Homo sapiens: one gene and its partner. The protein of the gene in region 2 purifies or fractionates together with the protein of the main gene of each other region. This does not show direct contact. Each region holds a gene or a part of one and is shown on either strand. Other genes may lie near its edges.

Region 1 (3,822 bases), on a different chromosome or scaffold from region 2:
ATGTTGACAGTGCTGAGGTTGACCCTGGCTTCGGAGAACTGATCAAAACTAGAGAAATGAGTTAAAACAAAGACAAGCAGCCAATCCAATAAAATGCTTAAAGGCTTAAATAAAATGATTATTTAAGTGACAAAACCTGGCTCCAGACCCGCACACTTAGAAAAAATGGCCAAATTGCATGCACATTATTTTAACAGCTATTTTAACTTTAATGTGTTTTTTTAAAAGCAACATTTTAAAACAAACCTGGGCAGGCATTGCCCTCTCCTCTTGTATCACAGGAACTTTTCTTGGACGATCAACTCGTGGCTTTGGCACAGGGCACTCTCCGTATATTGAACCCAACCTAATGAAAAGTATGCTTTCATTTATTTTTTTTGCCTGTTGTTTGTTAAACAAACTAACTTTACTAACTAAAAGTAGTTTGCATGGTATAGTCAAATTCAGACCAGACATCAGTGATATACAAGCTGACATCAGAGTAAGACTCTTGATAAGGTTTGTGACAGCCTTTCTGCCTTCTTTGTATTTCTAAAAGAACTCCTAGGAGCTTTACTCAACCACAGATACCTCCTCAGACACCTACATACTGCCCTGTAAAGTAGGCCAGTGAATATGCCTGTGACATCTTCCCACCACCCAACCTATTGTTTTGCAAAGCCAACTTCTAAGAGCAGGGGAAGGATGAACATGTATGTGGGGAAGCTCCAGTGGGGTCAGAAGACTTTGATCTGGGGAGGCCAAGGCAGAGGCTCCCAGCCCAGGACTACAGAACACATCTGTCTTAGGATAACAGGGCAAGTCACAGCCATGGGATTCCTTTTCCTTCTGGATTCTGCCCTCATGCAGACTTGGGTTACAGTAATAGATGTAAGTCTGCATCATGTAGAGATCAAAGCCCCAAGAATAAGGCTCATGTGGTCCCTACCCTTGAGGAGACAAAAATATACGATGTAGATGGACAGCTGCATTATGCACACAGATCCATTTCAATATAACATGGTGGGCTACTCTGGGAACACTCCTGCTCCACAAGGAGCAGTATAAAAAAATAAATTAATCAAATTTTAAAAAAGCAACATGGTAGATCCTGGGCGCTTAGAGAGTACTGCTCAAGTGCTATGAGAACACTTGGGCAGAGATATCTACCCAGACATGGGAGTGACGTGGTTGAGAAATCTGATCCTACACTGCTAACACCTCTGTCTGGAGAAGTTGCTGGAGGCTTCCAAGATGGGGCCTGTGGGATAAACAAACTTTACCGAATGGAAAAGATGAAAAGGAATTGGAGGCCAAGAGAACAGCAAGTACAAAGACACAGAGTTTTAAGTACTTCATTGTGGCTGGAAATTGGGCTGGATGATGAGATAAAGTTTAAGGCTTTATCTTTATAACCTAGGATTTATGAGTTTAGTACAATAGCAAAAAACAAAGATTTAGACTTTATCCTAAGATGAAGAAGTTTGGACTACATCCTATTAAATAGAACATACACAAATGGCTCTGGGCACCTGAGTTACCTGAAGTCTTATTAAAAATAGATGCCAGACCCCACACCACACTACTACATTGGCATCTCCAAGGCCTTCTACCCGAGCTACTATCAATCTCAATGGTTTTTAGAAAGACAAATTAGAAAAGACAAAAGCCCAGGAGCTATACCACTTAAAGAAGGACTGAACAACTCAGATGGCTACCCTAAAGTATTTACTGGGCAACAAAACCAGTATACTTGAAGGTCCTCTTAGAGAAGAGCCAGTAAGAGCTGTTCTTAATTTCTCCATAGGACCATGCCAGGAAGTTAAGACAGAAGCCAACTTCATTCAAATATAAAGAAATCTTTTTTTTAAATCAGAGTTCTATCTAAAAAATGAACTGGACAGTTTATGTGGCAGTGACAAGTAATCTTCAAATACAAGTCAGTGGTCATCTAACAGGGTATTATAATAAATGTCACTTTAGACGTTGGGAGACTCATAAGATACCCTCAGTAGGAGGTATCATCCTCCTATATGATAAGGATTTTAAAGATGATAAACCCAGAGTCTCATGAGCTAGAAGCAAAGGAGCCAGGAGAGCACTGGTAAAGAGGTTCTGGCCTTTTCTGCTAAAGCAGAATGAGAGATCCTTTAAGGTTCCATCCACATCTAGAGTTTATGGACTTTTTTTTCTTTTTTGAGACAGGGTCTCACTGTCAGCCAGGCCGGAGTGCAATGGCGCAATCTCAGCTCACTGCAATCTCTGCCTCCCAGGCTCAAGTGATCCTCCCACCTCAGCCTCCCAAGTAGCCAGGACCACAGGCATGGGCCACTACAGCGGGCTAATTTTTTGTATTTTTGGTAGAGATGGGTTCTCGCCATGTTGCCCAGGCTGATCTTGAATTCCTGAGCTCAGATGATCTACCTGCATCCACCTGCCAAAGTGCCGGGATTACAGGCATGAGCCACCACACCCGGCCTAGTGTTTATGAACTTTCATATCAAAGTTTCAAAAGTCTCCAAACAACGGCATCATGACTGTCACCTCTACAATACCAAATAATCTTTGTCCCTACAAGAAAAAGCAATTTAAGGTTCACAAATAACTGGTCTGTTGGATTTTTAAAATAATCTTACAGAAAGTGGAATGTATGGGTTTTATTAAAGGTGTTTTCTGCTGTTCTGCCTGTTATCTTCCAGGAGTCATAGACTATGAATTCAAAATCAGGACTATCTTCATCACGGATGAGTTCTTCAGCTTCTAGCGGATTTACACCCATATGTGTGAGCTACAAAAATGAAGGAAAACAAAAAACCCAGTTAAGCCACATGCAATCATTTTCCACATCCAATAATCCGCATCACTCAACCTTTAAGAGGCCAGACGCAAAGCCAGCTTTCAGTGTCTTAACATGCTGGCTAAATTTCTTACTGTGAAGATAACTTTACAGTTAAAGTCCTGCTTCCAAAGCTACCTTCTTTTTGGCAGAAAACATTCCTCAATGTACTTAAAACCTTTGGGTGAGAAAGTGAAATGATTTAGACCAGTGGTTCTCAACCTGGGTATACGTGCCCACAGGGGTCTTCTGGCAATACCTGGAGACATTTGTGGGTGTCACAACTGATATGCTGCTGGCATATACTGGGTAGAGGCCATGGAGGCTGTTGAATATCATATAATGCACAGTAACAGCCCCCAAAACAAAGACATGCCCAGCTCAAAATGCCAATCCATAGTGCCAGTGCTGAGAAACCCTGCTGTAGCCCACTGGCAGCCAGAAGTATTTAGGTATGCCAGAACTCAGCCCCCTGGGATTTTTTGTATCACCAATAGTTCGTGTATTAGTAAAGCTGCACTAACATATAAATATAAAATTAAATCCCAAATCAAAAGCTTCAAGACAGCACAAGGAAGTTCAGCTGGTTTTCAGATTTTAATTTTTTGCCAACCTCCTACAAATCTCTATTCAGCTTGTATCTCAGTATATCCAGAGAGCAGTGGCCCGGCATCACTGAGAGAATGGCTCATCTTAAAATTGCCTTCCTGGGAAGAGTTGGCGGAAGTCAAATAATTCTCTCATCTCAAACTGTCTTACAGAAAATGTGTTATATTGAATTTACTTTTATGAAAGTACATTTTTATTACATTATACTGTAAAATGCCTAGAAGTTATCCAATTACGATGGCAATATCATATATAAACAATAATCACAAAACCCTCAGGGAGCTTAACCCTATTAAAGGCAATCAGACTTTAAAGAAAAGAAAGGCTACAAGAGCCTGGTCAGAGCGCTATGGCCAGCTCTTCTCCATTCCCTTGCCGCCCGAACTACCACTGCACCC
Region 2 (2,751 bases):
CTTCTACCCACTGGAGGGCTGCGAACATCACTGCGGGGCCCACCTCATTGTCCGTCAGACTCTGTACCGAGGACGGGGTCCTGAACTGTGTGGATGATGAGCCAAGGGTTCCGGAACATCATCTCCAAGGAGGGGGTGTGGGAGGTGGGTCCTGGTGAGAGCCTTGGACCCTGTCCCTCGGCGGGAGGGGCAGTGGCACCAAGCTGCAATTTTCCACCCCGCCCCTGCTGTGGCCCCGACTCTTGCCATGTCCCTGGGGCTGCTGAGCAAGGTTTGTAGAAAATCACATAACGATGAGCACTGGGGCCTCTCCAAACTCCTGCTCACGCACTCAGGCGTAACCAACCTCCGCACCTCCCAGCATCCCACCTGTCCCTGTGGGCCTTTTTGGCAGAGGTGGGGCCCACCTACCCCAGAGAGCCTGAAGAAGTTTCCTTGCTACAAGCCCAAGCGTGGCCAGGTATAGCAATGGGTGTGCAGGTAAAGGAAGAAACATCCAAATTAATTTTGCAACTTTAATGTAACACTGATACCCAAAACATGAAAACACAAGGAAAAGCACAAAATGAAAGCAGGAAGAGCAAAGAGAGCTTCATCTTGCATGCCACCTCCGACTGACAGGAAGAAGCCGCCTAGGGTGCTGTGTCGAGAAGGAATCTGAGAGGAGGCGCTCTGGCTTGGCCAGTAAGATCGCTGCAGTTCGTCAACGGTGCCTATAAAAGCACAAGAAACCAAAGTGACAACATCCGTGGACACACGCGAACCAGGGAGGGGTGTACGTAACAAAATAAGTGTCCGTCCATGCTGTTGCCGTTGCCCCCAGCGCCCCCACCCTGGCCCTCCCTCTGACATCTCACCCCCCTCCGCAGCCCTCCTGCAGAGTCTCATTTCTCTACCGAAACTCTTACTGGATCCAGGAGAAGAAGCTGGCGCCAGCTCTGGCAGCATTTCTGGTCCGGATGGTGGAGCTGGTGCTGGGGCCATCTAGGACGCTGGTGCTGGCCCCTCCATTGGTGCCACTGCTGACGCCAGCTCTCCACGTGGCCCTCCTGTTGGCACGGTTGCTATTCAGAATGTACTGATGGTATCTGGCCCAGAAAGCAAAGGGGATCCTGGCCCAGGCATCGCCAAAATCTCCGTCCTCATCCCAGGTCAGGAGCTCGACTTGTATGTCATCCCAGCTCCACCGTCCAATCAGCGCTTCATCCCCGATATTCATCTGGGCCCTCATCTGGGCCCTGGCATGTTCCTCGGCCATATCCACATCCATTGTCTTGAAAGCATCATCCACAGCCTCCAAGAAATGAGCCTTCCATTCCCGGGGGTCTCGGTTCTGATTCTGAGGAGGAAAAGGGCAGGCATAGACACAGAGCTACCCCACACTGGCTGAGCACCCGCGGCCCGCCTCACCCCCTCCCGTGTGCTTTGTGCAATGATGGCAAAAATCAGGACCACAGGGATTGGGGGCTCCTACTCTCCTGTGCCAGACCTGGGATTTTGCCCCATCTGTGACCTTGTGTAGGGTGCTCAGGTGCCTCTGTGAGTGTTTGGTACCCTCACTGGAATACGGGGTAATGGGAAGGAGGCCTCGACCAAGAAACAAGCAAGGTGTGGAGAGCACCACCCCCGGTGCCGGGCACCCAACAGAGGCGCTCCCTTACCTGGGCGATGAATCTCAGGACCCTCATCTTGCTGGTCTCATGGCGGGCTCGCAGGCCCCAGAGGAATTCATACTCAGGTGGGTTGCTGTTGGGGATCTTCTTGTATTCCAGGTACCTTGGCATGAGAGGAAAGTAAACTTTGCTGCTAGCCAAGCAGACCTGTTGCTGAACGGATGGGTTCCAGGGGGCCCCTCCTCAACCCGATGCCGCAGCTCAGCTCCTGGAAGAGGACTGTCCTGCCCCTCCAGCCCTTCACTCATTCCCAAACCCACTCCCAGGACTTCTGCCTGCAAAAGTGAGGCCTTCAAAGCCTTTTGCCATTGGTCCTCCCCGGAAGCCATGCGGAGGTGCAGGGGGTCCACATGTAGGGCATTTGTCTGTAGGGAGGCCACAAGTTTGTGCCCCTCATCACGATGACCCCAGCTTCCTGTTGGGTGTGTTGTAAACAGAGGAGCCATTCTTCAGGCCCCCTGCTCTGAGCACACCCCACCTCGAGGGTCTTGGCCACACCCCGGCGGAGCCCTGGAGAGGCCCACCAGAGGAAACGACTGGAGAGGAAGAAACAGTCAGCCAGGAGAAGCGTGCTCCAGGCATCCTCCTCAAGTCCTGACCCTTTGTTGGTGTGCATGCGCGCCTGTGCGTTGGCAAGTCCTCCAGGGACGGGGAGAGGGTGGCCCCTGGCCTGAAAATCAGGAGAGTTGGGCTGAGGCCCTTACCAGCTGGGAGCCATGCTCAGAGGCGTCTCCTCTCTGAGCTCCGGGTTCCTTAGGTGTAAACCAGGGGGAACTCTTGTGTCAGTCTACAGGGCAGGTGCTCAAGGTGATGGCGGCCGTTTTCACACCCCACACCGTGTTCTCAGGTGACGTGAGCTCCCTTTTCCCAAGACCGCCCTGGCCTTCGGCTCCCCACACACTCGCATACCCCCCACTGCCACTCACTCCCAGGTCAGAGGCACCCATCCCTCCAGTTGAAGATTTGGGATAGGGAACTGCTTTCTCAGCCAGACCAGCACACAAAGGATGCTCGAGTGAGAGCCGCAGTTAGCTCAGGTGATACTTACTTCTGCTTCACAAAGTCATCTGTGATGAGC

Evidence for each region.
Region 1: the proteins of MAGED4B (region 2) and NSMCE4A purify together in Homo sapiens (affinity purification with western blotting, with the first as the bait; one study listed by BioGRID). This does not show direct contact.

The regions. Positions count from the first base shown.
Region 1 is NC_000010.11:121,965,040-121,968,861, forward strand, and holds part of NSMCE4A (non-structural maintenance of chromosomes element 4 homolog A), read right to left. Parts: intron 2,768-3,822; coding exon 2,616-2,767; intron 347-2,615; coding exon 247-346; intron 1-246. UniProt on the Homo sapiens protein: Component of the SMC5-SMC6 complex, a complex involved in DNA double-strand breaks by homologous recombination. The complex may promote sister chromatid homologous recombination by recruiting the SMC1-SMC3 cohesin complex to double-strand breaks.
Region 2 is NC_000023.11:52,061,326-52,064,076, forward strand, and holds the end of MAGED4B (melanoma-associated antigen D4), read right to left. Parts: coding exon 2,722-2,751; intron 2,426-2,721; coding exon of another isoform or gene 2,378-2,425; intron 2,149-2,377; exon of another isoform or gene 2,022-2,148; intron 1,777-2,021; coding exon 1,662-1,776; intron 1,340-1,661; coding exon 909-1,339; coding exon of another isoform or gene 905-908; exon of another isoform or gene 897-904; intron 714-896; coding exon 704-713; 3' UTR 502-703; downstream 1-501. UniProt on the Homo sapiens protein: May enhance ubiquitin ligase activity of RING-type zinc finger-containing E3 ubiquitin-protein ligases. Proposed to act through recruitment and/or stabilization of the Ubl-conjugating enzyme (E2) at the E3:substrate complex.